Regions from separate parts of the Homo sapiens genome. Here region 1 is reported to be linked to region 2. The links are microRNA targets in miRTarBase. Many come from high-throughput screens and were not tested one by one. Region 2 holds a microRNA gene; the other region holds the end of a gene's coding sequence.

Region 1 (15,650 bases), not on the chromosome of region 2:
AATTCCTTGTAAACAGTTTCAGAAATTCTTCAAAGATTGTTTATTTTTCTCTCTCTTTTTTAAGGTTTTGTGTGTGTGTGTGTTGTCTAGTTGTTTTAAGATGAAAGTTCCCAGTTCTCCCTTGCCCGGAAAGTCTCTGGAGCAAGCGTGGAAGGCGAGTGAAGCGGAAGGTGAGTGAAGCGCGCGCAGCTCCCAGAGGGAAGCGAGAGGCGAGGATGACGGCGGCGGCGGCGGCGGCGACCCGGGCGACGCGACCGTTCCCGACCGACGGCGTGGCCTCCACCGGCGTCGGCAGCCAGGCGCCCGCAGGTGTGGGGCGAGTTCGGCCTGGCCCTTGGGGACAACGGCATCCGACTGCACTCGCGGGGAGAAGGGATTGATGCTCTGTCTAAACTCTACAAAAGTACAGTCCTACAACATCTGGGATTTTAGCAGTAATGCTAACTTCTATAGGTTTTTTTTTTCCTTTTTTATTTTTTTTTTTTATTTTTTGCTTTCCTCTAATTTTTCTTCTATTATATAGGTATTTTAAACTTTTCCTTTTTAAAATTCTGTACAACTATTATGATTTTAAGAGGGGGAAGAGTTAGAAGCATTTACAGACTTTTCACAACAATGACCTTGCTTGGTAAGTCCCATTTGTTCCCCTCCTTGTTTTCTCACACTTCACGGGTGAGTTTTAAGATTTGTGTTGCTTTCCCCAAATATCCACCAATTTGTTCATCTTTTAACAGCTCCATCCAGACATAGAATACAGAAAACCATAGGAAAGTGTCATAGACTTGGATGAGGGTCATCAAAGCGCCTCTCAAAGTATCAAAGAACTATTATCTTGCTGTTTTAAAAGCATTGAAGCGTTATTTTTCCTTTTTTTGTTGTTTTTTTTGTTTTTTGTTTTTTTTTTAATTTTTTATTACATTTTTTCATAGAATCGCTCTAAGCTGTTTCAAGAACAGCCATGAGGCAGGAAGGAGGGGGTCCTCCATTCCCCCTCTATTTGACATAGAGCTACACATCTGCAATAAAAAGTTTGGTCCTTTGGTCCCTAAATAGCTAAAGGAATGACAGATAGAGATGCTCAGTGGCGGCCTCTCAGCCGCCCCTTGGGGACCAGGCCCCACGCACCACTTGCCCCAGCCTGCGTCAGGCGCCCGTGGGCTGGAAAAGCCCCGGGATCGGTAAGCAGCGTCTCCTCCCAGCTCCCAGCCCTTCAGCCTCCCCGTCTGCTCGTGATATTTTGTTTTAAAGTTGCCTTTTGTGTGTTTTTTTCTCATTTTTCTTCATCTTCTTCTTCATGTCATATATATTTTCCCCCAAACACGTGCCCTCTGAACTCCATAGACGCTATACTTTCCTTGAAGAAATGTTACAGTCACACAGACAGTGTCTGGAGTCTTCAGCTTGATTGATATTGGCTGATATGTCAAAGGTGTCATCCAACAGTTCTCATTTATAAATATATATAGAGAGAGGTTTGTTTTTTAATGTAGCCCGTTCAGCATCCTGCCCTAAAATGAAGAAAATCAGGGCTGATTAAGCCAAGAGGGAAAACACAAACAGCATCCAAACACCAATAGGAACCTGCCTCAGGGGCTAGGATGGGAGCTCTAGGGGATGGTGGGAGGGAAGGAAGAGAGACCAGTATGAGAATTAGTCATGATCATGATACATTAAAAAGAAATATACTCTTCTATTCAGAGTAGAAACCACTGGGAGGTCTAGTGGTGATGGTTGTAGCTGAGGTTTCGTTGTTGGGAGAAGGTTCTTGATTTGGGTTACTTTAGCATTCTGGATTGGGGGTAGCTACATCTAAGGGGAGAATTTGGGACTGCGGGATATGAATTCATAATTAAACTTGTCTCTGAGGGATCTAGCCCAGATACAATATGTATACAGAAGCCTAGCAAACAAGATAGGAAAAATCTAGCAGCCCAGCCCACTCCTCCCAGCTCAAGGGAAAGAAGGAAGACACATCCGTGACTCAAATTTTGTAGAATCCTTGCCCAGCTTCCAGCCAACCACTTCTTTCCCGGGGTCAGTAACTATTTGCGAGGCTGTGTATATATATGTATATCTGGATATATGTGTAGAATATATTCACCTGCACATATGTGGATATACATGGATATGTGTGTATGTATATGCATATATACACACATACACACACATAATACTTTTCTCATACATGCCAGGGAATTTAGAGGAATTCAGAACTTCAAGGGAGTGGATGGGAAAACCTAAAAAAGGTCAGAAGAGATTTAATTATCAAACTTAAATAAATTAACTCAGACAGTGCTTGATTTTGTTTTGAATGGTGGCTTTTTGGTGTTTTGTTTTGCTTTAAAAAAATCATGATCTGACTAGAATCAGAAGGCGAATGCTTAATCATTGTGAATTAACAAATGAGACTCATCTCCATTCTAGCAAGCAGCTTCCACTTATACATGGGGGTGACTGGTTACATCAAGAAAGTTAGAACTGCAAAGCCCCCACTTGAGGGGACAACGTCATGCGTATATCAATCCATGCTGGCAGGTTTTTCACACTGTTGATTCAACAAACAGCAAACCGTACACAGCAGTCTAAACAATTACAACACCAAATAAAATAATAATAAAATTAAAAAACACTTGTCAAGGACCCTTTTTCAGTTGTAAACAAAAAGGTGCATTTTGCTTTTGTTAGTACTGTTTCTTCCAAACCAACCAAAAAAAACCCTCCCGAGCCCCCAGTCCCCAGCCTCCCCTCCCCACATTTAATTTAGCAGAAGTGGTTACAATACAAACCTTACAATTGTTACCGGGCTCTCTTGCAGAGGCCTCTGGCTTTGTACTCTAGTTTTTTGGTTTAGAATTTTTTTATCATTCTGTTACTGTAGATATTTTGTTTTTGTTTTTTTGTTTTTGTTTTTTTTCCCTTTGAAGTGAGATTGAAAATAGCCTAACTGGAAAAAGACCAGACCTAGGAAAGTGTCAATTGAAAAAGGCCCCCAAATTTCTAGAAAAAAATAAAATCACAATATTTTCAAGTGCAAGTAAATCAACCACGCATAGATATTTTTAAGATGTTTTCCTTATTTTTAAGAAAAAAATAATGGTTTGCACAGGTAAATGATCCCATGTTTGATAATTCAGGAATTCATCTTTATTTTGACTATTTTTTGTTCTTTTGTTTTGTTTTTTTCTCTATGTGACATCTAGAGAAGCATAAAAAAACGCTGAACAAGAAAAACCAAACAACAGAAAGTAAAACCACTGCAAGCACCAAGAACGAAACGAAAATGAGCACAGCAAAAAAGATTGTGGCAGCACAAAAGTCAAGAAAATGCACGTGTGATCATGACTGGCCAATCATCAACTGATACAACATCCAAGAAAAACGCTCCAATCACAGCACCTCCACGAAACTTGACGGCAATTGTCATGCAACCGATTCTTAGCCTTGTTACATGACGCCATCATGTCACACTGTGAACTTTGAGTTGATTTGAACTTACGGATGGGGGACTTTTCTCCACTCTCATGTGATTACGTGAACTTTATTCCTAGCTCAGCGCGAGACTGTGGTGGATTTGACTGGCCCTGGTTGGGTTGTTGGAATTTGATTGAATGACAAAAGAAGAAAAGATTTATATATATATTTATATATGTAGAGAGAGAGAGAGAGAGGACAAGAGAGTGTGGGTGGGGGAAGGAAGAGGTGGGGCAGGGCAGGTGGGGTTGGGGAGTGTGGGAGGGCAGGGAGGGCTGGGATTTGGGTGAAGGAGGGCAAGGAAGAAGTTAAAACAAAATTAAAAAGAAAATATATTTATACAGCACCAGACCACAGCATCAATCTAGAAGCTCTGATGAGAGAACAGCAGTCAAATCATAAGAGAACTGAAAAGAACTCAAAGGATGGAGGAAGCCAGCAGACAAACATGGGCACATCAACACACACACACGCACACACACACGCACGCACACACATACACACATACACACACACGGTTGTTTATGCAGACACATGATACACTGTGAACAGAAGCAGAACCTCACACAGGGCCACTAAGGGCATCCATCATGCGTTGGGGAGGGGGGCATGGGCGGTTTGGCAAGGGGGCCAGAAAAAAAATAAAACAGCCCCTCAAACCACCTTGGCCAGCAAGCAATCTCAGGGAGCAGGCGCTCTGCTTTTCATCACCCTTGATTCTTTCTCTCCCCCAGGGGTGGCGCTCCCTCCCTCCTCAGCTTTCTGTGACTACAGCCTGTGGGCCAGCAGGGGATGTCTGTCAAGGTGGCCCTGGTCAGCTGGGTAGGTCAGAGGCTTGCTATGGTAACTGCTGTGTCCACGGGGTCCATCTACAAAATGCTTTGCTGCCATAGTACCACCCAGGCTGGCAGCAGCTCGGCCCTCCCACCCTGTGGACCCACCCTGGCCACCATCCTAGAGAAGGCTGCAAGGGCACCCACTGTGGAGGTTATGGCCCTCCCCCGTTTCTGCTCCACCTCAAATTACTTTCCTCAGAACCTGAGCAGGGTTCATTTTGAGATTTAGGGTAAAATTCATCAATGTTCTTGGAATTCTAGAAACATGCCTTGGCACTACTGAGTTCATCTTGCATTTGCCTTACCCTCTTTCTTTGCTCACACTCTTTGCCTTGCTCCCAAGTGGCCTGTGTAACCAAACTGAGGCTGCATCTAGGCACATGAAGCCCTTCGAAGGTTCTGCAGCCCTGACCCATAAAAGCGCCACATGGAAGGCTGGAGGGTGCCCTGCAGGGGGCCATGTGCAAGGCTGGAGGGTCCCCTGCAGGGGGCACAGAGGCGAGCGCCTCCAGCCTTTGCTGCTCCCACTCTTGCTCTGCTGACTTCCCCTCCTCCCTACCCCATCCTCTTTTCCCACCCTCTCACCCCATACCCCTCCAGGAACAGCTTTCCAGCCTGGCCCACCGCAAGGCCCCAACCTTCAGCTTTCTTTCCTGGTGGAGCCCTAAGTAGTTGAGAATGAGTTCTCTTCGCTATCAGGAATCATCAGGTGATTCAACTTTCGGCTGACTTCTCCACCCCTCACCACTTCATAGTCCTCTGCTGCACCTGGGCCCCTTTGGGGTCCTTAGCTCCACCCCTCCCCATAGTTATCTTGAGCTTGCACTGGATTCCCTGCTCCCCTGTGGCACTCAGGCCTGGGCCAAGGCCTGTGTGCCAGGTTGATCTGCAGGCTTTCCAGTCCACAGGCTTCTACATACAGCAGACTTTCACTCTCAGCTTTATGCTTTCCTGCAGGGAGGGAGGGAGGGAGGAAGGGAGGCCTGGGATCTTAAAATATCACTGTGGATGAGGGGCAAAGAAGCTGAGCCCAAGCCCGGCCTCCAGCTCAACCTTCACAGAAGCACCCTAGACTCCTCCTCTGCAGACCCCAGCCTGCCTGCCCACCAGGGCTGGGTTCTTTGCTCTTCCAACACTGGATCTCCTTCCCCCAGATCAGGGACCGTCCCATGCCCACCAAGTCCTGAAATGCCACTTCCAACTCCTCCCAGAAGCCCTTAGACCCACCCAGGATGGCCAACGGGCAGCTCCCGTTGGCACGGGAGAAGAGGCCTAAGGAACTAAGGAGGGTATTGCCATCAGATGGGGGCTGTGGCAACTGCAACTCAGGGACTCCCTGGGACTCTCCTCTTTCTCCCTCCATTCCAGCCCTGAGCCCTTCATGGGCGTTTACTCCTTCCCACTCTGCCTGCTCCTCTCCCAGCTTTAGAGTGCAACCGCTTGTCAGGGCCAGGCACTGTCCTGTGTACTGCAGCACAAACCTGAATAGCACACAGCCCCTGTCCCTAAAGCTCAATCTAGGGAACTTCCTCACACATACCCTCATCTCTCACACATGTGTGGCCCTAGACACATAACACACCCTCACACTCAGTCCCTGAGGAGCCCCCAAGACTCCACGGGCTCAGCTGGCTACTGTCTTCATTAGGCAGCAGCTCCTCTTCTGCCTGCAGGGTGACCCCTTCCCGACCACTCTCGGGGTGGAGGCTCACAGAGCACAGCCCTAGGTGTGGCAGTGGGATCACTGACCGGCATGGTGAAGTCCAACTCACCGAGCTGGGTGAGGAAATTATGGCCAAGCTGAACCAATTCAGATCTCAGGTCCTAAAATCAGCTGGTCTCAAGCAAAGGAGGGCCAGGCCGAAAGCTACAGCCTGGCCCTGTATAGGTCAGACCCAAAGCACCTGTGCCTGCAAAGCCTGGACCCGACACTCTCCAAAAGCATACTCAGAGCCAGAGTCACAGGACTCACTGGGGTCAGGACAAGATGCTTGGTGCACTCTCCAGCCATAGAACTGGAGTGCTAGAAGTCTGAGAACCTGGCCTGCTGCTGGGGCCCAGTGTGTCTGGTAAGCAGTGGCGGAACAAGGGGCTCAGAGGCCAATCTCTGAGCTGGGCGGGGCCAGGCTGGGTGTGTTCTGCCCGCTGGCTATGGACCTGGCCACATGCATGTTTTTGCCTACTCTTCCTGCCTTTGCTTCCTTCCTTATTTATTTCCTGGCAAAGATTGCTTAGAGAAACTCCAGTCTTAGCACAAGACAACAAACCCAAGCCACCAGAGGGGTAGGGCAGTGGGGAAGCAGAAAACCCGCCAGGAAGGAGAGTCACTGACTCCAACCCTAATCCCACCCCACTCAGGACCTTGCTTCATGGAACCAAAGCCCAACTGTACTCCCCACAGCTGCCCTGCCTAGGCCCTTCTCCCTCCCCTAGGTCTGTCCCCACTCCCTTCTGACTTGGCCTTAGAAAGCCTGCACCACCATGGGGCAGCTGCCCTAGCCCTGAGGTCCCCCTTCCACCTCCCACTTTGCTCCCAGCTATGGCTGGTCCCTCGGCCCCTGCTCAGGCTTCCTGCCCTTCTGAGCACCTGGGGCTGCAGCTCAGGCCTCAGCACAAATGAATACCCTTTACTGGCCTGTGATACCAGGCAGTATTTTAGCTGATTTTTTGTGCCTTTTCCTCCCTCGCTGGCAGTCCGAGGGCAGCCACTTCTCATTGAGCCACTGCCTCAAGGCAGTCCCCAAGGCTGCCTTGAGAAGCTCTCTATCTCTTCTTAGCAACCGCCTTCTATTAGAGCTTCCAACAGTCTTGGGCTGGGAAGCCTGACAGCACCATTCGTTAAAATACTGTCTAAATGAAAATTAAATGTCAACCTTACTGTAGGAGTTATGTGACATAGTAGTTTTTTAAAGGACTGCTTAGTAGAAAGGAGGTGGTTAGATGGCTGACCCCAGAAAAGTGAGGTGTCATATGTACTCCCTCAGGACATTCAGGGTACTCTGGGGTAATAGGTTGGGGTGAGGGTAGGGTGGGGCTTCTCATTCTCCTCACTTGAAGGGGAGAAGGCTCCCTGGCTTCAAAGCTTGGCTCTGTGACTCACTAGCTGATGGGCAAGCTACTTAATCTCTCTGTGCCCCATCTGTGAAATGGAAATACTAACACTACCTACCTTATAGGTAGTTGTAGCTATGTAGTTAACATCTCCTAGTTGTTACTTCTCGGAGCAGTGCCTGGTGCATGGTAAGCACTGTGTGAAGGTCTAGGGTTCTAATCTTTCTGCCCTTTGCATGCCCTGGTGGAAGAACCGACTCTGTGTTTTAAACCACTCCTCCCAAGCCCCCACCCCAACTCTGAATGCCAGCTGGTTCAACCCTGTGGGCACTTCTGACCTTATATCCCAAACAATAAACCTGCCTTCTCACTCCTTCATCTGGGAATTCTTCTAACCTAGAGGTTTTATCCTGGCTTGAGCCAAGGAGGCTAAGACAAGCTACTTTCAGGGGTGCCCCTTGGAATCTCGGGACATGACCCTGCCTGATTCATATCCCCCTAACCCCCAAATCCTCTAGTTGACTCTAACACCTTAGTCTCATTAATGAGAAAAAAGAAGCCCAAAGAGGACAAGCACCCTAACCCAGGTCACACCTTAATGGCAGAGCTATGCTGATTTAAGAAAAAGTGTCCTATATACAGAAAAAGCTGCTTTCACGAAACCGTCCCTCCATTCCTATGGAAATGCCCCCATCTGCAAGCTGCCTCCTGGTGTCTGTGTGTGCACAGAGCCAGAAGCTCCTCGAGGGCAGGGATGGTGACTCATTCATCCTTGCATCCCCCACACTGGGCCCAGTGCCTGGCACAAGAAGGTGCCCAAACTCTGAATAACATGTGTGTTTGCATCTGGACACAAGCCAGAAATGGGCAAGGATGGGAAACAAGCCAGAAATGGGCAAGGATGGGAAACCAGGAGGCAGGAAAGACTGGTTTTGCTTTTCCAGGATTGCAGAGAGTGGAGGCACAAGCACTCCCCCAGAGAGAAGGCCCCTGCTCTCTGAGGGTGAGAGTTGCTACTTCTGGGTGGAGGAAGGGTGTTCTGCTGGTATCTGTACCCCAGCACTGGGTGGAAGATTTGAGGGGAGACTGGGAAGCTGGAGACCTCCCTCCCAAACTCTGGACTGTGAAACTCAAATGTGTATTTTTCACATGCCTGATCTTTCTCCCAATCCCTCTGTTCTTCCAGTGACTTGGGCCAAAAGCCTGGGACTCATCCTTGGCTCCTCTTTCAAAATACACCTAGAAATTAATTCCTTCACATCTCATCAACTGCTGTGACACTGGACTGAGTGGTCAGTGCAGTAGACCTATGCTTTGGCCCCCTACAAGCTATTGTCAACACAGAAGCCAGGGTGACCCCACTGAAATGCAAGTTACCCATCACTCTCCTATTCAGAACTCTCCAATGCTCTCTCCATCTCCCATTTCAGAGAAGAGACCAAAGTCCACGCAGTGGCCTTCAAGGCCCCACACCAGGTGGCCCTCCTCACTCTCCCAGCAACCCAGTCTCTTGCTGTTCCTACTCCACTCTGCAGCCCCACCTTGCAGCCTCCATACTGACTGTTCCCTCAGAGGCGGGGGCATGGCTGCTTCCCTCACCTTCTATGCTCCAATTCACTTCCTCAGTGAGATCTACACTGACCATGTGGTTTAACTGTAGCCAACAATCTCGACATACTAGATCATATTCTTTGATCACACGTCATTGTTTATTGTCTGTCTCCACCTTCTCAATCTTGCTCACTGCTGAACCCCAAGTACCTAACACAGTAGCTGGCACACAATACTGCTGAATAAATGGAGGAACATGGGCAGGGAGGGGCGGTCAGAGGGCAGCAGGGTGCTGAGCTGGAAAGGCCCGAAAGGAGCCTTCACCTCTGCTCTGTGAAGAAGCCGAGGCTGCAAGAGCCACAGCACTGGGGGAAACCATTCTGAAGGTTGACTTTTGATGTCCTGGGGAATCTCCCCCCATTCTTTCTGCAGGAAGAACTTTGCTCAGGGGAACACGTGGGCTGGAAGAGGCGTGGCTGACTGTGTCTTCAGCTCCTAGGCAGGACCCAGCCCAGCAGAAAAGGTAACAACGACCACTCATCATGACCCGTGTGGGGCAGGCAGGGCCCGGGATCTCAGTGCTGTACCATCACCCTCCTCAGCTTTCATCCCATCCTGCTTTGTTTCTTAGTAAAGTTCCCTTTGAAAGATCCTGTCCTTCCTCTCTTCACTGAGCTATGGGGAAAGACAGGGGTGCAGGGGTCAAGTGTCTAAAGGCTACCAGCCCTCCTGGAAGAACTGGGGAGGAGAGAGCCGGGGGTCTGGGAGCAGGCCCCGCGGGCGGCTGCAGCTCTTCTGGGTAGAGCCTGTTCTGCCCCCAACCTCCCTCAGCCTGAGCTTGCCACCTGTTCACCCCAGGGTTCTCTGGCCAACAGGACTGCCAATGTAGACCCGGAGGCGCAGGCCCAGGGCTCGCCTCACCCGCCCGGAGTGGCTCCCTCACTCCTGCCCCTGGTGGCCCTGCCACAGGGAAATGGCCAGGCCCATTTCTGCCGGGGTGACGGCAGCTCTGCGCCTGGCCCGAGGAGCAGGGCGAGGAGCAGGTTGAGCCGGGCGCAGCGGGTCCAAGGCACCAGTGAGGGTCCGGCCCACGGAGGCCGGAGGAGGCGGCGGGTCCGTCTGGTTCCCTCCCAACCCCCGTCCCCGCGCCCCGGCCGCCCCCGGTTACCTGTGCGAGTCCTGGTCTCCCCCGGGGGACGCTCCCGCCGGCGCTCAGTACGGGCGATTGGCGTCTTTGGGCCGCTTCAGCTGCACCTTGAGCCTCTTCATGCCGATCTGGAAGCCGTTCATGGCCTGGATGGCGGTCTGCGCGCTGGCCGGGTTGTCGAAGCTCACGAAGCCTGGCGAGACACGAGGGACGAGGGCCTGGGTTTCCACGGGGCCGCCCGGGGCGCTGCCGGCGGGGAGGGGTCGGGGGACAGGGGGGCGGGGCGGGCCTGAGGCTCTCCCCCTCGGGCCCCGCCCCCGGCCCCGCCCCGGTGCCCGCCCCTCTCCAGCCCGCGCGCGCGTGCTAGGCCCCTCCGGGGGCAGGCGCTGGCGGGGACCCGGCTCGCTGACCTGCGCCTAGTCTCTGGCCGCGTCACTCGCCCGGCGCCCGCTCCCCAAGTGGGGCCCGCGGCCGGGCGGCGCTGGGAGAGGCGCCCGCCCCCCACCCCCGCCGGCCCCGGCACCTCAGCCCTCGCCTCGGCGGGAGAGGGCGGACACACCTGCGGGTGGAGGAGTTTATTGGACACTGTCCTCCCTGACAGGAGGGGGCCTGGCAGCGCGCGGGCACAGGGTGCCGGCCTGGGGAGAGAGACGAGTGCGAGGGGCCGGGAGGGAGGCGCCGCCGAGAAACTTCTCCACCGCCGGCCCGGCCGCCCCCCTCGCCACCGCAGGTGCCCGGCTGTCGGAGGAGGCCCAGAGGCTGAGCCCTCGCGGGCCCTCCGCCCCCACTCCCGGCCTCTGCCCGCCCCGCCAGGCTCCGGGTGGGCCCTGGGCGTCACCTCGCCCCGGGCGCCGTCGGCACCTCTCTTCTCCACGCCCTGCGCCGTGGACTAAGCACGCACCAGCTGATATGTCCATAACAAGTCACAAGACCATCAGTGCAAATCAGGCCACAGCCCTCCGTGCAGAAGCGCTTCCCACGCGTTCACTCCTGTGCCCAGATGGCATGCAGAACCTTGCGGCTCCCAGGCCCAACCGCGCAGGTCCCAGATGGGCACAGGTCATGTTCCCAAAATGAGGTCAGAAGTCACCTTTGGGGAACTCTGAATGCATCTCTTCATACAGACAACATTTTACATCAGCATTTCCCAAACTGGCCCTAATAGGTGCTCCTCGAGAAAGGGCTTGTGTGGTCAGGAGGTTTAGAGCCAGGCCCACTGGGCCAGTGCAGCATATCAACAAATAACGTCCCCTCCCTCACCGAGTTGTAGTAAATGAACCTTTATAGCTTTGTTTAATCTAGTATTTCCTTGAATTCATTCGACTTTAGAGGCCTTTTCTCCTGTAAAAAGGACTTAGATCCTGCAAAATATATGAAAGCTTGGCGAGATACTGAGGCGTTCCCATGAACGTGCCCGTTGCGTAATGGTCCCCAAATGGCCATTAGGTATAAGACAGAGATGCACAGCCACCCGGGAGTGAAGTAGAAGCCGTCTTCTCAGTTTATTGTCTGTGGTACCTCGGGCCTGCCTTGGGACTTCTCTCCAAGAAAGAGAGCCCTTCCTCACTTTCCCTACCTGCTGGTTCTTTTTCCCTCTTTCCCTCTGCCCCAGATGCTGCCTCCATCGTCTCTTTCTTTCTCTCCTCTCCTTCCTGCCTTGCTCAAGTTTGCTCCTACAGCCGAACAAGCGCAACAATTGGTCAGAGCTGGGCCCAGAGCAACAAAACTAACCTCTGTATAAATATAGATACCAGAATAAATAGGGAGAATTTCAGCTGATCCATACGAGATTCGCCTCCAGCCATATTTCCACCAGCTCCCCTCAGCCCCTCCTGGCCCGTCCCCACCTCCGCTGACCTGTATGTCTAATCACTAAAGTCAAGTTACGTCAAGTAAAAGTCAAGTACTTAGTAAACCAGAGCAGTTTTCAAATATGTGAATTGTGTGTTGATACTGCTTTCCCCAGAATAAGGAAGGTGGCTGGACAAAAGCCTGTCCCTGCCAGGACAAGGTAGCCTGACTATGGGGGACATGCTGCCCCTCATTCTTCTCATCATCCACCTGAGCTCAAAGAAGGGAGGGGAAAGAAGATAAAAAGGGCTGGAGGAGCTGTCTAGGGCACAGGCGTAGCGGCAGGCAGAACCACTGTGTGGGGAGGGCAGAGAGGAAGTTCTGGAGGAGGGCAGAAGCCCAGCCTTCCTGGAAGAGTTTAGAGGTCCTCGGAAGCCCGAGAGTTGAGAAGCAGTCCAGGGTCAAGGGAATTTTTCTTCCCTTGAACTGTTAGTAACTGGCTAGCAGTCTGAGCAGGGTCCCTCCCCTGCAGACTGGAGGCCCCTGTGGCAGGGCTCTGGGCACTGTCTCCCAAGTTCATGGTTCCAGGACCGTCTTCCTTCTTCCAGAGCTACCTCTCCTTCCCTCCTCCTATCCTCAGAAGGTTTCTGCTCCCAGGCCCTGTGGGAAGGCCCGCAGATAGAATCCCCCTATGGTATTCCCCCAGCCCTCCTTCCAACATAGGAACATTTGTGCTAGACATGCCCTCATGAAGGTATCTGGAAGATTCTGCTCATAAATTTACACATGTGCTTATAAAGAGTGAATGTGGCCTTTGAGGAGTTCACTTTAACATAGGGCCACTTTTATAGCAAAAATAGCACTTTAAGAACAAAGGGGACCTAGCACTTCCTGAGGGTCTGCCCTGGGTAAGCTCCCTCACAGCATCCCTGGGGCGATGATTAAAATCCCCTTTTCACAAAGGAAGAGATTGAGGCTCACAGGGTTAAATGACTTGTCCATGAGGGAATGCTGAAGTTAGGTATCACTTTATTTTATTTTTATTTATTTATTTTGTTATTTATTTTTGAGACGGAGTATTGCTATGTCACCAGGCTAGAGTGCAGTGGTGTGATCTCGGCTAACAGCAACCTCCCTTCCTGGGTTCAAGCAGTTCTCCTGCCTCTACCTCCTGAGTAGGTGGGATTACAGGCGCACACCACCACATCCAGCTAATTTTTGTATTTTTAGTAGAGATGGAGGTTCACCATGTTGGCCAGGCTGGTCTCGAACTCCTGACCTCAAGTGATCTGCCCGCCTCAGCCTCCCAAAGTGCTGGGATTATAGGCATGAGCCACTGCACCCAGCCTAGGTTTCACTTTAAAGGCCTCTGGGATATTGGCAGAAAGCTCAGCTGCCTGGTGAGAGAGAGAACCCAAGTGGCTTAACCAGGAACAGCTGGGCTGGACCAGCATCTCAGGAGTCTGTCCTTTTTTCAGGGCTGGTATGCTCGACATCAGAAATTTGTTCAAGAGAGGAGAGCTAGATTAGAGGTATACTAATTAGAGAGAAAAAAAAACTGTAGTCCTGGCTAATTTAAGTGGGCTAACAGCTTAAAGAGGGTAGTGCTTAGAGCAGACTGCAAGGAAATGCCTTTGGAAAGCCGGACTGCACCCACACCCGGGATGGTGCAAATATGCCAAGCCCAGCTATGGCTGGAGACTAAACCTGTTCCAGCAGAGGCGCCCAGAGCTTCCTGGGCTCTCAGCAGCGCTCTTCTCATTTATGTAACATTTGGGACTTCCTTAAAGAGCAGATGCAACTGATTTCCAGCTTGTTGTTTTTACATACATAACTGTAATTCATAAGGAGAAATACCAAAGAGTGGAGGACTGCAACCCTGTCTTTTGCTTCTGCTTTGTTTTTCCACACCCAGAGAGAAATGAGCTGCTGGGGCAACTCCATGCCATTGAAAGACCACAAGTTTCCTGTGGCAGCTCCAGAGGGGAAGGGACAATGGTGCAAAGATCTTGACTACTTTGGGGAACATGCTCCGAATCCTCAAGCCCTTCATGATTCCAGAAGGTTGGACTCCAGACTGGAAACTCCTTAACATGCGCTTCCTGATGCTGCACTCCTGTCTCCTCTCCCCTCCACCACCCCCAAGCTGTGACCTGGGTTCCTTGCAACTCAACCTCCTACTCTCTCCTCCCAGCCCCAGAATCTGGGGGTCAGCCTGGAGATACTGAGTGTCTGGCAGACTCAGCTCTGGTTCCATATGTGGCTCTCTGGGGACTGGACTCTTCAGTCCTCATGACTTACGAAAGGGTCTGGCCCAGAAGGAACGGATGAAGGAGAAGGATGAGGAGGTCGGAGGGCAACAAGGAGGAGTGGAGGAGAAAGGGTGATATGAAATTCCAGGAGGAGGTCTGACGCTTGCTGGATAGGGTTGCCAGACTTAGCAAATAAAAACACGGGATGCCAGTTACATTTAAGCTTCACATCAACAATAAATACTTTTTACTGTAAGTACATACTTATACTAAAAATGTATCCTTTGTCTATCTGAAATTCAAATTTAACTGGCCATCTATATTTTATCTGACAGCCATACTTCTGGATGCTTTCGAGTTTTCCCTCTCCCATCTAACACCATGCCCTGAGCACATTTCCTGCAAACTGTATTTTTATTACTCTCAGCTCAAGGACCTCCCACCATTTCCACTGCCTACCACACCCCGTGAAACACCCCCCTCTGCATAGTGGAAACCCCCCAGCACAGACACCACACCCCCGCGCCTGGTCTCCCTCTCACTGTCCTCTGGCTCGTCTCACCCCAGCCCCATGCCTTCCTCATCCAATTCTCCCCACGTGGAGTTCCCTCCCTTCCTTTTTGTGTATTTATATCCATCTGCCTTCCTTGTCGTTTCATTATTAGGTGCCTCGCAGATTTCACTGCTATAAACATAATTTTCATCTAAGCTCAGCGCTTAGGCTTCCTGAGGGCAGGGACCAGTCTCCTCTTCCTGACTCCTCAACAATGCCCAGCTCTGGTGGCCTGAGGCAGGTGAGTGGGGAGGGCAGGAGGGGAGCAAAAAGCAGGGTAGACAGAGAAGGAGTTGGGGCAGGACAGAGAGCTGGAGAGAGGAGGCGAAGGGGTGGGCAGGAGAGGGGCCTGGCTAGGTGACTGCCCTGCCCAGGTGTCACGCTCTGATTTAGCCTCGGGCTCAGGCCAGGCCACTCTCACCATGAGAGGAGAGGGGCTACTGGGGGAATGGGTGTGGCTGGGCTCTGCCTGCTGCCCCTCCTACCCCTGTCAAGGTGGCCCCTTTCCCTTCTCAGTAGGTTGGAATTTGTCTGGAAGAGGAAACCCATTTCTTGGACCGGGAGTGGGAGATGGGGAGCCAGGTTGTGTGGGTAGGGAAAGCCAAGAAGCAAAAGGAGTAGTGGGAGAGAGAAGGGTGAGATGAGGCTGGTGAGGGCCATGGAGCAGCTGGGGCGGGGGCAATGTGAAGGAGCAGGTTAAAAGCAGTCGGACACCGGTAGGTTGGTGCGAGCACCGCCCTGTCCTAGGTGAAGCTAATTGGTTTGTTATCTTTACCCACCAAAGCATTTACTTTGGTTAGTCGCCCGATCCACAAACACTTTCGAGGAGATGACATTACCGAAAGGGAGGAACATCTGCATCAGCTCAGCGTCCCCAAACTCCTGGGGCAGATGGTAGATGAACAGGTTACAGCCCTCGGGCCCTGCGGTGAGGGGAGGGGGTGGGCGGGGGAGGAGGGATGGCAGGGTGGGGGAAGAGAGAGACAGAGGAGAGGTGA
Region 2 (15,650 bases):
TTCAGCTTGACTTTGAGTTTGCAACTCTACTTGGCTGCTTCCTCGTTGAGTAGCTATAGGTAAATTCATTAACTTAGCCTCCGTTTTCTCATCTATAAAATGGCATCTTCACAGGGATTAAATAAAAGAACATTGTGAATATAATCAACTTAACTATGGACTTAAAAATGGTTACAATGGGCCGGGCACAGTGGCTCACGCCTGTAATCCCAGCACTTTGGGAGGCCTAGGCGGGTGGATCATGAGGTCAGGAGATCGAGACCATCCTGGCTAACATGTGAAACCCCGTCTCTACTAAAAAATACAAAAAAAATTAGCCGGGGGTGATGGTAGGCGCCTGTAGTCCCAGCTACTTGGGAGGCTGAGGCAGGAGAATGGCGTGAACCCGGGAGGCGGAGCTTGCAGTGAGCTGAGTTCGCGCCACTGCACTCCAGCCTGGGTGACAGAGCGAGACTCCATCTCAAAAAAAAAAAAAAAGGTTACAATGACAAATTTTATGTTATATATATTTTCTCACAATGTTAAGATTAATAAATTAATGTGCCAAAAGCCATTGAATTGTACACTTTTTTGTTTTTTTTGAGACGGAGTCTCAAAAGTCCAGCCCAGGCTGGAGTGTAGTGGCGCGATCTCGGCTCACTGCAGCCTCCACCTCCCAGGTTCCTCCACCTCCCAGATTCTCCTGCCTCAGCCTCCAAGGTAGCTGGGATTACAGGCCCTCGCCATCATGCCTGGCTATTTTTTTTTGTATATATATTTTTTAATAGAGACGGGCTCCACCACGTTAGACAGGCTGGTCTCAAACTCCTGACCTCAAATGATCCGCCCACCTTGGCCTCCCAATTTGCTGGGATTACAGGCATGAGCAACTGTGCCTGGCTGAATCGTACACCTTAAATGGGTATATTGTATGGTATGTGAATTATAGCTCAGTAAATCTGTTAAAAAACATGAATGGGCATATTAATTTGCTTATTTAATTATTTCCTATAAAGTGTTGTTTATAGGAATCGTGCCAACTTACTGCCCAAGTTAAGTTTTATTTGTTGGTATATATTAACACATATACACACAGTTTACAATTTAATTTTCACCCTAAGTGGTGTACAGTCATTAAAGGGGCCCAGACCTCTGGGCTGCTCCAGGTTAAGAACCTTGCCCATGTCTCCTAGACCCTGAGTCTGATCTTCATCTCAGAAGTTGTCAAACTCCACCTGCAAAGCTCACTCTGGGGTAACCAAGCTCTGGAGAACCCAGGCCTCTGATGCAGACGCTTGAGAGGCTGATAAACAGGAAGGCCAATGGCTCCTTTTACCGATGGGGACACACTGAGCAGTCCTGGGTAAGGGCCCTCCCCATCACTGCGTGCCCAGCAGAAAGGAGGAACACAGGGTGCTCAGTGTTCTTCAGCACCCTCTTCCTAGCTATAACAACCATGGTTTTCACTGGCTGGTTCAACTTTATTGTGGGATAGAAGTCAATGATCAGAGCAGATATAAATAAAGAGCATTAGAAAATAATGAATCAGGAACATTTTTTTTTTTTTAAGATTCCAGTTCTACAAACCTGTTAGGAAAAACATCAGCCCCTACCACTCCCGTTTCCCACTTTCCAGGGAAACCACGTTCAGCTCTTACAGTGTCTTAAAAAAAAAAAAAATCTACTCCTTCCTGCTATTTTTCAGATTGGAAAACAGTTTGTAGAAGTCCTGGATGAGGGTCTCAATTTTGACAATTGCTCTAAGAGAACCTGTAAAGCAATATGAAATCTTGTAGAGCAATAGTAATTAGCTGTGGTAGAGGGTAGTTATAATAATGTAACTATTGCATCCTAACCCCTCTACCACAGCTAATTATTTCATGTTGCTGTACAGATTGCAAATGACTCTCCTCTACAGTATATCTTTTTTTTTTTTTTTTTTTTTTTTTGGTTTTGTTTTTGTTTGAGATGGAGTCTCGCTCTGTCTCCCATGCTGGAATGCAGTGGCGCGATCTCAGCTCACTGCAACCTCCGCCTCACGGGTTCACGCCATTCTCCCGCCTCAGCCTCCTGAGTACAGGCACCCGCCACCATGCCGGGCTAATTTTTTTTTCCTTTTTTTTTTTTTTTGTATTTTTAGTAGAGACGGGGTTTCACCGTGTTAGCCAGGATTGTCTCAATCTCCTGACCTCGTGATCTGCCCGCCTCAGCTTCCCACAGTGTTGGGATTACAGGCGTGAGCCACCGCGCCTGGCCTATATCTTTCTTTTTTTAAAAAAGGTAATTTTTATTGTGTTAAAATATACATAATATAAAATTTATCTTTTTTACTTTTTATTTTTTCTTTGAAACAGGGTCTCACTCTGTCACCCAGGCTGGAGTGCAGTGGCACAATCATAGCTCACTTCAGCCTTGAACTCCTGGATTCAAGCGGTCTTCCTGCCTTAGCCTCCAGAGTAGTTGGGCATTTTAACAATTTTTGACTGTACAATTCTTTGGCATTAAGTATATTCATGTTGTGTAGGCATCACCACCATCCATCTTAAAACTTTTTCACCACCTTAAACTGAAACTCTGTACCCATTAAACAATAACTCCCCATTGCTTCCTCCTCCAGCTCCTGATAATGACTACTCTACTTTCTTTCTCTATGAGTTTGACTCCTCTACGAACCTCATCTACCTGGAATCATACATTTGTCCTCCTTTTGTGTCTGGCTTCTTTCACTTAACATAGTGTTTTCAAGGATCATCATGTTGAAGCATGTATCAGAATTACATTCCTTCTTCAGGCTAAATGGTATTCCGTTGTGTATGTATCATACTTTGCTTATCCATTCATCCATTAATGGATGCTTGGGTTGTTTCCACTGTTTGGCTCTTGTGAATAACGCTGCTATGAACATGAGGGTAAAAATATCTGTTGAAGTCCCTGCTTTCAATTCATTCATTCATTCATTGAGACAGGATCTTACTTTATCAGTCAGGCTGGAGTGCGTGGTGTGATCACAGCTCACTGCAGCCTCAACCTTCCAGGCTCAAGCCATCCTCCCACGTCAGCCCCCTTAGTAGCCAGGACCACAGGTGCATGCCACCATGCCCAGCTAATTTAATTTTTTTTTTGTAGAGAAGGGGGGGTCTCACTATGTTGCCCAGGCTGGTCTTGAACTCCTGCCTCAAGCAGTCCTCCCTCTTTAGCCTCCCAAAGTTCTAGGATTGCAAGTGTGAGCCACTGAGCCCAGCCTCAATTTTTTGTATACCTAGAAGTGGAATTGCTGGATCTTCTAGTAATTTTATGTTTAATTTTTTGAGGGACCTACTTTGTCTTTCTGACAACAGTTTTATGACCAAGGTGAGGCAGATACTAAGACAACTGTTCTCATAAACCAGACAGGACACTTGGTGGCTGGCCCAGGGTCTCAAAGCTTGTTGGAAAGTAGAGCTGGGACTTGAGCCTGGCTCTTCTGGCTTTAAGTCCACCTTCTTTCTCGCTACCATGCTGTCCTCCCTATTATATTGGCCTTCTTAAGCCTATAGTCCCCAACCAGAGGTCTCAGATAGATGTTCCCATTCCTCCAGAGCATGTAGAGGAAGCTACATTTATGCAGCCACCCCCCTTTGTTTGCAATCATCATTAGCATCTATCAATGGCACATGCCTGGTCTATTATAGGTCTTGAATTAGAGCCCACCTCACCTCCGGTTAGACTAACTCATTGGATGAAGAAGTCTCATTGACACATTGGGAAAAAGGGTGTGCCTTTGCAATGATTCATGTCTATCTTATATGAATGCTTAATCCCTCAGGGGCTGTTCTTTGATCCAAATTTTGTTCCCCCTCTATTCTGGACCAACTGCTCCACACATAACTCATGGCATTGAAATAACAATTTTAAAGTAGCTGCCACATTTCAGGAATGGAGGGCTTTGCACATGTTAGCTCATTTACTCCCCTCACCCTGAGAAACAGAAAGCATCTTTCTGTTTTGCAGATAAAGAAACATAGGCCAGAGAGATCAAGCCACTTGCCTGAGAGATGGCCCAAGATTTTCTGGGTGCCAACATCAGTGCCTCTATTTCTCCACCTCACAACACCTCCTTCCCAAGGATATCTCCCACTATGTAAGACTTTGTAATCTAAAGCTTATGCTCTTAACGGGAACAGAGGGTTTTTTGAGTTGATGGGTTTTTTTTCTTTTTTCCTGTCTGGAGTTCAGACTTGACTTCTAATTGGTAGGGTTTTGTCCTCACTTCTTTGGACCCTCTCCTACAAGACCCTCTCCTACAAGACCACCCACCAGTCTGGGTCCTAATTGTTTGTGACTCTTTTTCAGGGTGGGAGCAGGGTGGTTATGGAATGACCATGGGTCCCGGCATGTAATAAGTGGCCATGACCTCTAGGTCTCTGGGCTAACACCAAGTGTCCCTGTTTAGCCAGTTCTCATTGAGATGTATTGAATGAATAAATAAGCTCATGAAAAAAAAATCAACCTAGACGATATTCTTCTCATCAAGAATAATAATACAAAATCAACCTAGACAATATTCTTCTCATCAAGAATAAAAATAAAATAAACCTAGACAATATTCTTCTCATCAAACAAAAACAAACAAACAAACAAAAAACTCATAATTATCCCCAGTGTTCTCTGCTTCAAAATAATGTGGAGGTACTCAGGAGGCTGAGGTGGGAGGATTCCCTCAGGCCAGGAGTTTGAGACCAGCCTGGGCAACACAGCAAGACCCCATCTTTAAAAAATTTTTTTTTAATTATCCAGGTGTGGTGGTATGTGCCTATAGTCCCAGCTACTTGAGAGGCTGGTGTGGGAGGGTGATTTGAACCCAGGAGTTTGAGGCTGCAGTGAGGTATAATCTCACCACTGCACTCCAGCCTGGATGACAGAGCAAGACCTTGTCTCTAAAACACACACACACACACACACACAAACACACATAATAGTGAGGAGGACTTGAATGCTATGAGAAGTGGGGAGCTTAGGAGGAGAGAGGAGGCCAATTTGCTATGATGAAAAGTTCAGTGCCCTAAGTTGAAATCCTAATTCCAGTCGCTTACTGTGTGGCCCTGGGCACATCACTTAACCTCTCTGAGTCATATTTTTCTCATTTTTGAAAAGGGGATAATAATTCTTGCCTCGCTGAGATGGTTGTGAGGATTAAATAAAATGAGGGGTGTGAAGGTGAGAGCACAGTCTCCAGCACACAGGAGAAATGAGGAAGCAGAGAGAATACTGGATGGATGAATGACCTAGCAAACAGTACAATATAGAATCTGTTTAAAGAAGTGAGCTTAAAAAATCCTCATGTGATGTATGTTATCTTTTGGGGCTATAAATGGCATTAGGCAATGAGGTATGTCAACGAACAATTATGACTCACCGTGGAAATACCAAGTCTTTAAAACCCAAGAACCAATTACCAAATCCAGCATCAAAGACACACTGAAGCACTTAAAAAAAAAAAAAAGTCCCATAGTCTAGGATGTGACAAAATTGCTATGTGTGGGATAGAGCCCTTGATTGCTAAGAAGATTCTGAACATTCACAGTGGAAAATTTTTCTCTTCCATAGGATCAAGTGAGAATCCTATATTCTATATGTGGATTAGGACCAATTAGGATGTCAGGGTCTAAATGATTTTGGTGATCTTGGCCCTAAGGATTGCAGGCAAAACCCAAAAGCCACAGTCTCTGAGCTCCTCCACTAAGGGTGTGCCCAACCCCCTCCTGCTCCCCCTCCGAAGCACTGGAGCTCCTCGCTGCCGGTGCCAACCTCCTCTTCCAGGAAGGAGCTCCCCACTCTCCCATGCCCTACTCTGGAGCTCTGGGTCTGATGTGTGCCTGGGCCTCCATGCTCCTGGCCTGAGGTGCTGTCCAGATGCTGAGAGTTGGGAGACTTTGCTGTCTCCAGGAATATTAATAGCATGGGAGCTGTCCAGCCTAGGGAGCCAGCACTGAGAACAGGAGCTGGGCAGGGAGGGCCTCGGAGCTCAGAGCCCAGGACCCAGAGCTTCTGAGCCAAGCTAGGATAGCCAGGAGGGGCCCTGGAGGCCATGCCTAAATGAACAAAGGAGGAAACTGAGGCCCAGGGAGGACAAAGCTTGGCTCAGGGACAGAGAGCCCATCTGCAGCAGAGAGACTCAGGCCTTCTGACCCTAAGTCCAGTGCTTCTCTCGTGTCCTCACATTGTGGGCTTCCCCCAGCAACATACAGTATTATATGCTCACCAATGAGGTATGCATCTGCTGACACATACCTACCACTGACCATGACACTCACTGATACAGCCCCCTCACAAGGTGCTTTTATCATCTCATTTAATTCTTACCACTACCCTGTGATTAGCTATGGTAGTACCGTCATCATCATCGTATTTTCCAGCTACAGAAACTGAGGCACAGAGAGGTGGGGTGCCAGACCTGGGGACTGGAGTCAGTTGTGAGAGCAGTGCGCCAGGGAAGGTTGCCTAGAAGAGGGGACATCTGAGCTGGATAGAGAAGCAGGTGTTCACTAGGAGGGTAAAGGAAGGGAAAGACATTGTAGGGAGAGGGACCAGCAGGAACAAAGCCTAGATTTATGAGGTTGGGGAGAGAGAGACAGAGGCAGAGAGAGAAGAGCACTGCAGGAGCATGAGGCATGCAGAGGATGATAGAGGGTACGGTGGAGACAGTGGGCAGGGTGGGGCTGGGGACTGTCTTACACAGCCATCCCTAAAGGCTCTCTCTGAGGGAACATGTGCATTAGTCCCGGGGCAGCAGACCCTCTGGACCCCAGCCTGAAAAATTTTGGAGCAGAGCTTCCCTAAGTGTTTTCCCTGACGGTGTTCCCAAGGGGTGTGGCTTAACCTTCCAACTACGCAGTAACCTCTCCTAAGTAAGAATAGTATCTGGCCAGACGCAGTGACTCATGTCTGTAATCCCAGCACTTTGGGAGGCTGAGGCAGGCAGATCACTTGAGACCAGGAGTTCAAGACCAGCCTGGCCAACATGGCGAAACCCCCTCTCTACTAAAAATACAAAAATTAGCTGGGTGTGGTGGTGCACTTCTGTAAGCCCAGCTACTCGGGAGGCCGAGGCATGAGAATTGCTTGAACCCAGGAGGTGGAAGTTGCAGTGAGCTGATATCACGCCACTGTACTCCAGCATGGGTGACAGAAAGAGACTATCTCTCAAAAAAAAAAAAAAAAAGTGATATCTCTCCTTCTGGGGTCTCCCTCCTCCATCCCAGCCTAGCTGTGGGCTGAAGCCCCATGTCATCAGGATAAAGGCTCAAGGCCTGGCTACCAAAACACAAAAACACAAGCACTCAGGCCCTGGCCTTTAGGGCCACTTACTTGCCTCCTATGTGTCTGGCTGGGGAGAGGGAAGAAGGATGACTGAAGGACAGGCTGGGGAGAGGAGTCATATCGCTGTGCCAAACTTGCCTCAAGATGGGGTACAAGAAGACAAGGAAGGGAATTTATGTTCATTGAACATTTATTAGGCAGTTGATTCCATTCTAAACACTTTTTTTTTTTTTTTTTTGAGACAGAGTCTCTGTCACCCAGGCTGGAGTGCAGTGGCGCAATCTCGGCTCACTGTAAGCTCCACCTCCAGGGTTCATGCTATTCTCCTGCCTCAGCCTCCTGAGTAGCTGGGACTACAGGCACCCGCCACCACGCCCGGCTATTTTTTTTTGTATTTTTAGTAGAGACAGAGTTTCACCGTGTTAGCCAGGATGGTCTCAATCTCCTGACCTTGTGATCCAGCCACCTCAGCCTCCCAAAGTGCTGGGATTACAGGCATGAGCCACCACACCCTGGCTGTAAACACTTTAATTTAAATATGCTATTTTATTTAATCCTCTCAAAAACCTTCACTTTATAATTGAGGAAACCAAAACTCAGAGAGGTAAGATAAGTCACCTGAGGTGTTTCCCCTGAGGCCATACTTCCCACTAGTATCCGCCTATGGGGATACTAAGGCCGACCTGGAAGTTGAGATTGACAGCACTGCTCTGAAGGAAATCTTTAGCTCAAGGACCCCCTTAATCCACTGGCCTTGTTGACCTTTCTTAGAACTGCACTGCCGTGTAAGATACTTTGATGTAACCTTCCTTCCTTCCCTCTCTCCATCACATGGGTCAGACCTGCATTGACGTCTGACGCCTCTCTCAGCCTTGCCAGCTCCCTCTCCAGTTTTGCACACTTACCGAATAATCTCCTGCAGTCTAACCCTGTCTTGATGTCTGCTACTTGGAAGACCTGGGCTAACACAGCCATACAGCTAGTGGTAGCTGGCTGGGCTTAGACTGACCTATATAATCCTTCTTCTGCACCATGTGCCACCTGCCATGAAATGGAAATGTCGGGGACTAATGTGAGCTGCTGCCTGGTTTTCTTTAAACAGCACAGGACAGAACTCCTTAGCCCTCCTCCCTCCCACAGCTTCCTTGCTTCCTTCCAGATGGAGTGACTGGCTGCCTCTGGAATCTCAGGGATCTCTTTGTGCCTGCCTGGCTGCTTCTCACTTTTCCCTGGGACTCAAGTGGGGAAGAAAGTCTACGTAGGTTTATTTATATCTTGAAATGAATCTTCCAGCCTGTTTTACACCTACCTCTCAGTTTCAGGTTATTTTTGTTTTGTTTTGTTTAGACAGAGTCTCACTCTGTTGCCCAGGCTGGAATGCAGTGGCGCGATCTCCACTCACTGCAACCTCCGCCTCCTGGGTTCAAGCGATTCTCTTGCCTCAGCCTCCTGAGTAGCTGGGATTACAGGCACACACCACTACACCTGGTTAATTTTTGTATTTTTAGTAGAGACAGGGTTTCACCATGTTGGCCAGGCTGGTCTTGAACTGACCTCATGTGATCCACCCACCTTGGCCTCCCAAAGTGCTGGGATTACAGGCGTGAGCCACCATACCTGGCCTTCAGTTTCGGTTTTTATTTTGCCTCAGGTCTGAACAATTCCCTCCACAATGACAATGTTCCAAGCTTCCTGAGTGCTGCACAGACTTTGTGACCTGAAAATAAATGAAATAGAAAGTAATCCTACAGATGGTACAGACACCCCCAACTAGGAGGAAGAGCAAGCTTCCTGAAAAGCTGTATAAAGAGCTCTTTCCACAAATTATATTAAGCTTTATAGTTAAGGGGTAGAGGGCTCCCTATCTCAAAGAACCCTGAATCTATGGCTTATTCCCTTTTTTCCCCCAGACCCAGACTATACAGAGTGGTACTGGATAAATATTTATAATGTGAAAAAATGATTATCTTTAATGGAGTCATTTTACAAGTTCAGATTTTCTCATGACCATTTTCTGGAAAGCAGAAAATCTGAAATTGTAACACGGTTAATAATATGAATATTATTAATCATCTAAGTAATAAAATAATGATATAAAATTCTTCCTGCTTTCAGAAATATATAAAGAGGCCACTGAGCCCATATCTCGAATCTATGAATTCTAAATAGTCCTGGCTGCAGTCTCAAGGCTCCAGGCTGAAGAAATGAACATGAATTTGTTTTGTTTTGTTTTGTTTTGAGTCGGAGGCTCACTCTGTCACCCGGGCTGGAGTGCAGTGGTGCAATTTCGGCTCACTGCAACCTCTGCCTCCTGGGTTCAAGCGATTCTCCTGCCTCAGCCTCCCTAGCAGGTGGGATTACGGGTGCGCGCCACCATGCCTGGCTAATTTTTTATATTTTTAGTAGAGATTGGGTTTCTCCATGTTAGTCAGGCTGGTCTCGAACTCCTGACCTCAGGTGATCTGCCCGCCTTGGCCTCCCAAAGTGCTGGGATTACAGGCATGAGTCACCACGCCCAGCCGAACATGAGTGTTTTTAAGGACTCCTGAGAGAAGAGGAGAGAACACCTGGACTAAAAATGCACTGCACTTGCATATCCTGAGGCCAATCTTCATGGTTTTTATGCTCTTATCCACCTAGAGCATCACAAACACCTTTCTGCAGGGTGGCCCATTCTGACATTAGCCAGATTATGTCAGCCCTGGATTGCTCAGGCAAATTATGACTGCCAAGGAATCTAGCCATGGCCTAGAAGAAAGGGGTCATAGCGACTGGCTGTTACAGGAATGCTGACAAACCAGAAAGGAGAAGACACCAGGCCCAAATGATGAATGCTCAGAATTCTATCCGAGGGTTCCAAAACACAACTGCCCCCAGGCCTGGGCCATGCTACTCTAGTCCCTATTTTTCTTTTCTTTTTTTTTTTTTTTGAGACGGTGTCTTACTCTGTTGTCCAGGCTGGAGTGCAGTGGTGCAAACATGGCTCACTGTAGCCTTAGCCTCCTGAGCTCAGGTGATCCTCCCAGCTGAACCTCCTAGTAGTTGGGATTATAGGCACATACCACCACACCCAGCTAATTTGTGTAGTTTTTGTAGAAATGGGGTCTCGCCGTGTTGCCCAGGCTGGTCTCAAACTCCTGGGCTCAAGCGATCTGCCCGCCTCAGCCTCCCAAAGCGCTGGGATTACAGGAGTGAGCCACTGTGGTCCGCCCCTGTTTTTCTTTTCTATCTAAATCCTATCCAGTCCTTAAAGCCCAGTTCAATTTTCACCTCCTCCATGAAGCCTTCTGTGGCTACTCCATTGCATGATGACCTCTAGGCTGTCTCTAGCTTCCTGGGACGCTGTTCTGTACAACATGGCACTTACAGTTGTAAGTCCTGCCTTTTATAGCTAATGGTCTGCATTTGTGTAACATTTGCATTCACAACTTGATTGCAAGTCTCTAGAGAGCAATAGTTTTGTTTTCTTCTCAGTTCCAGGAACACAGTAAATCAACACTTGTTGGTTTGGATATGCAGTAAGCACTCAATAAATGACTGTTGATCTGGCATCCAATAGATGCTCAATAAATGCCTATTGGTTTGGTTTACAGAAAGTGCTCAATAAACGCCTACTAGCTTGGTATACAATAGGAGTTCGGTAAGTGACTGGCTTGATCTACTAGGGTTTTTTTTGAGTCTCCTCTTTGTTGAGGACTGGCTAAGCCGATTGGGCACCAGACCCAGTGGGAAGCTGGTTGGAAGATAGCTAGGACAGGAGAGCTCCCCACAGCAGGCCAAAGTGGAGAGCGAACAGTAGGGAGAACCCAAGCCAAATTCTTGAGAGGGACTAAGAGTCAAGGTCTGGAGAGCCCAGACCTAAATATCAGTTCCTAAGAAGCATCTTCCAGTAACTTCTAACAGCACCTCTTCAGTGAAGCCTTTCCTGACCTCACTATCCAAAGTAGCCATCCCTCGCCCTGTCACTCTCTGTTGCACTCTCCCATCTTACTTACTTCTTAGCATTCACACTACTTGATATTAGCATTTCTCCCCTACCGGGCACCCACCCCACTCCCCACTAGAATGTAATCCCTGTGAGGAAAGACTTCCTTGTTTATCAACACTTGCCTTGTTCACCAACATAACCCCACGGCTAGAAGAGTGCCAGCACATAGTAGGTGCTCAATAAATAGAACTTGAATGAATGACTGGATGAACTGAGAGAAATCAAGAGAAAGGAAGTCAGCAGGAAGTGAATTCAGACAGATCTGGATGGGAACTAGCAAGGTCCTGGGCCTCTGGCGAGAATGGCCCATGAGGCTGTGTGGGAGTTTTCCGCCTTCCTTTATGAGCCTGTAGGTGCCATAAATGGTCGTGTCTGGTAATCTTAAAGGGACGGAGGAGAAGGAAGAGAGGGTCAGCCTACCCCTTTCACATTATTTCTATCCTCAGGGCCGGGCGTGGTGGCTCATGCCTATAATTCCAGCACTTTGGGAGGCCAAGGTGGGTGGAGCTCTGAGCTCAGGAGTTCAAGACCAGCCTGGGCATCATGGCAAAACCCAGTCTCTACCAACAACACAAAAACTTAGCCGGGTGTGCGGGCACACACTGTAGTCCCAGCTACTTGGGAGGCTGAGATGGGAGGATCATTTGAGCCTGGGAAGCGGAGGTTGCGGTGAGCCAGGATTGTGCCACTGCGCTCCAGCCTGGGTGACAGAGTGAGACCCTGTTTCAAACAAACAAACAAACAAACAAACAAACAAAGAAAACACATTAATTCTATCCTCTAACTATAAAATTCTACAATGGCTCCACTTTCTTAACCTTGGGGAGCCCCGTAGGATACTCTCTCGTGGATAACATCAAAACATCTCACAAAGCACATTATGTTTGCTTTATTATACAAGTAATAAGCAATAAACTGGGTTAGTACTCAGAATATACCCACTCCCCTCCCACTCCCACTGTGGGTGGCATATACTTCCCTGCCCCATTGGTGTTGGGCTTGGCCATAGGACTTGCTTTAGCCAATAAAATGTTAGGAAATGAGGTAAACAGAGGCTTTATACATGCTTGTGCATTTTGGCTTGTCTCTTGGGCTCTGACAAGCTGGAAGGTGAAGCGAAGCAAGCTTTTATAACTGTTGCCCCTTCAGCCAGAGCCCCAGAATGAAGGCACGTGGGGCATACAGCCTGACCTGCAGTGAGGAGCCAGACCTAGTCCAACTGCAATTTGACTGATTTAGCAGGGCGGGGCTGAGACAGAGCAGCCCTTCCATGCCCAACCTAAGTCAGTCAAATTGCAGTTGATCTGCAGAACTGTGAGCTTGAGAATAAATCCTTGTGTTGTAATCTACTGAGATTTGGGGCTGGTCTGTTATGCAGTATTATTGTGGCAATAGCTAATAATTATATAATATATATTTACTGTAGAAAAAATTAAAAATATAGATAAGTAAACAGGGAAAAATAATACACCCATGATCCTATCACCCAGAATAAGTACTGTTAGCATAGTGGAATATGGCTCTTGGCTATTTTTCTATATTTCACAGCAATGGGGGCCTAGTATATATACCTTTTTTGTAATCTGCTTTTTCATACCAACATATCATGAGCATCTTTCTAAGGCCATAAGCATTGCAGCATTTTCTCATCACCCCTCCCAGCAACTTACAAGACAGGCGCAGTGGCAACCGTGTTTGCCCAAGTTCACTCCTCTAGAAATGAGCAGAGCACATTGTGACTCCAAGCTCAGTACCCTTTCTACCAGGCAGGGGTTCTCTTGGGGCCTCATTAGCATTTTTGTCACCTGGCAAGGTCAGCTCTTTCCCCAAGGAGAAGAAAGTGAAACCTTTATCTTATCTGGAAGTGGAACAGAAGTGTTTGATTCCCTTGATTCACCTGATCCCAGGGGCTGCAACAGGCCCCAGCTCCAGGGACCTACTGCCAACCTCTCACCACAAGCATCCAGGGGAACACTTGTTTCTGCCTTAGGGTGTAGTGGGGCATGAGCAAGCGGTTGGTAAGTATTTTCTGATGCCCACAGGTTTCTAGTTTCAACTGAGGCTTTTTTTTTTTTTTTTTTTTTTTTTTTTTTTTTGCGATGGAGTCTTGTTCTGTTGCCCAGGCTGGAGTGCAGTGGCATGATCCCGGCTCACTGCAACCTCTACCTCCTGGGTTCAAGCGATTATCCTGCCTCAGCCTCCTGAGTAGCTGAGATTACAAGTGCATGCCACCACGCCCGGCTAATTTTTGTATTTTTAGTAGAGACCGGGTTCCACCATGTTGGGCAGGCTGGTCTCAAACTCCTGACCTCAAGTGATCCGCCCTCCTCGGCCTCCCAAAGTGCTGGGATTACAGGCATGAGCCACCTTGCCCGCCTATCTGAGGCATTCTTCTTAGCAGAAATGGAGCAGAGGGTAGCTTCCATTCCTGCAGTAAAGCTAGCCTGGGTGCTTCTGGCAGGAACCTGGGAAGCCCGTGGAGCCAGGCTGCATTCCCAATTCAGACAGTTTCAGCAAGAGAACCCCAGGGAGGTTGGAGAGAGGGGCACAGAATGACCAGATCAATGGCTGAAGTTACTCACCTAAGCAAAGTGCAGGACTCAGAGATGGAAGGCCTGTGTCTTAGTAGTTGTGTGGCCTCAGTTTTCTCATCGGTAAAATGGTCATGGAACTGTGTGCCCATTGAACACTCTCTTCCGACACAGGGTTGTTGTGAGGATGGTGAAGTAATAAGCAGGAAAGAGCGATGGCACTGCAGGGAGCACTTACCCTCAGAATCCCAAGAGGCCGTGTCCTCCTGGGTCAAGCGGAGGAGGCAGGACATGCAGGTCCCCACTCTCCAAGCCAAAGGACAGCAGCAGGGAGAAGGAACCTGGCTTTGGGGAGCTCCGGGTTGGGAGAGGCCAATCCTACAGAATCCCTGACAGCTGGCAGAAAACAGGCTCCAGGCACAGAGTCTCCTCTGATCAGGTTTTTCCCTGAGGAAGGCCCTTTATTTGTGTTTTCCTCCTTAAGTTGATGTTCTAGCCCCAGCTTGTGAAAGGGAAAGAGAGAGAAAGACAGGAAAAAAGAGAGAGGAAGGGAGGGGAGAAGAGGAGAGCAGGAAAGAATAAAAACATCCCACAGTGTGTGGACTGGGGCCATTGCAGGTGGGTGGGAGGGGACATCTGAGAGCATCCGATGGGGCCACTCTGCAGCCAGACTCCCCCAGGAACCAGAAGCCTCAATGCAAACCCAACCATAAAGGCTGGGGAAACCCTGGGCCCAGTGGCTCAGCTGGCAATGATTGTATGCCTCTAGGGTGGGGGTGGGGCACGGGGTAGGCCTTTTGTTCAGCCAAAAGGCCTCCTCCTGCCTCCTCCTTTCACCAAGTCCAGCCTCTCTGCAGGATGAAGAGATGGGAGGGCCAGAGACAGAAAACGTGATAAGAGAGAAAATGCTTTTTTAAAAAAGTGTGTAAAGTATCTTTTTTTTTTTTTTTTTGAGATGTTCTCCCTCTGTCATCCAGGCTGGAGTGCAGTGGTGCAATCTCAGCTCACTGCAACCTCCACCTCCTGAGTTTAAGCAATTCTCCTGCCTCAGCCTCCCGAGTAGCTGGGTTTACAGGCACGTGCCACCAGGCCCAGCTAATTTTTGTATTTTTAATAGAGACGGGGTTTCACTATGTTGGTCAGGCTGATCTTGAACTCCTGACCTCAGGTGATCCACTTGCTTCGGCCTCCCAAAGTCCTGGGGTTACAGGCGTGAGCCACCGTGCCTGGCCTTAAGTATGTGAAGTATCTTGCACAGTGTCTGGCACATATGAGGTAACAAATATGACCAAGTTTGCCCCGAGAATTAGTGACAGGGCCAGGACTAGAGCCCAGGTCTCTGGACTCTATGTCCCAGACATGATTCTTTGATCTCTTGTTGGTAGCAGGGTGCAGCTAGTGTCCAAACTAATGCTTGGTGATGAGGACAGTGGCTGGTTGAGTCCATAGGGGACCTGCCAGGCACACCCTCCCTCAGGATTCTGGTTGCCAAGGCTGCCTCTTACTGAGGCCTGAGCACAATGCATTCACTCTCCCCTGGGCCAGGAGCAACTCTGCACAGGCAGGGGCGGGCTCCCTAGGGCCAGCCCCCAACCAGGCTCCAGGAATGCTGAGGGAGTACACCAAGAGAAGGCTAGCCTAGAGGCAGCTCCCAAGATGCTCATCCCAGGGACCCAGATCTCAACAGCTGTGCCCTCAGAGTCAGTAGGGACAAATGGACCTCTTCAGAGAGCTACCCTTGTGGGGCCTGGGCCCCCAACAGCACACCTGGGGACCCCAATCCTAGGCAAAACTTGAGAGGACACTGGGGGACCCAAGTAACAGCCTGTGAGGGTCCCTTGCCCAGTTGGGAA

Evidence for each region. The annotated mature microRNA hsa-miR-422a reads ACUGGACUUAGGGUCAGAAGGC and lies in region 2 at 6,138-6,159, opposite strand. An mRNA with a match to its seed (bases 2 to 7 or 8) in the 3' UTR can be bound and repressed. Matches are read on the target gene's strand: a 7mer-m8 pairs with bases 2 to 8, a 7mer-A1 pairs with bases 2 to 7 and ends in A, and an 8mer does both.
Region 1: the mRNA of CELF4 is a reported target of hsa-miR-422a. The part of its 3' UTR that is shown has no 7-base or 8-base seed match.

The regions. Positions count from the first base shown.
Region 1 is chr18:37,243,690-37,259,339 of GRCh38, forward strand. It overlaps CELF4 (CUGBP Elav-like family member 4), which reads right to left. Exons shown (of 13, transcript NM_020180.4): 11 at 15,492-15,575; 12 at 10,078-10,249; 13 at 1-1,508. The coding sequence ends at 10,122. Among named protein-coding and RNA genes, the nearest start is that of SNORA111, 210 kb to the right of the region's middle. RefSeq lists enhancers at 5,848-6,348, 6,349-6,849 and a silencer at 10,370-10,519.
Region 2 is chr15:63,864,852-63,880,501 of GRCh38, forward strand. It overlaps MIR422A (microRNA 422a), which reads right to left and starts at 6,168; the gene lies at 6,079-6,168. RefSeq lists an enhancer at 14,043-14,938.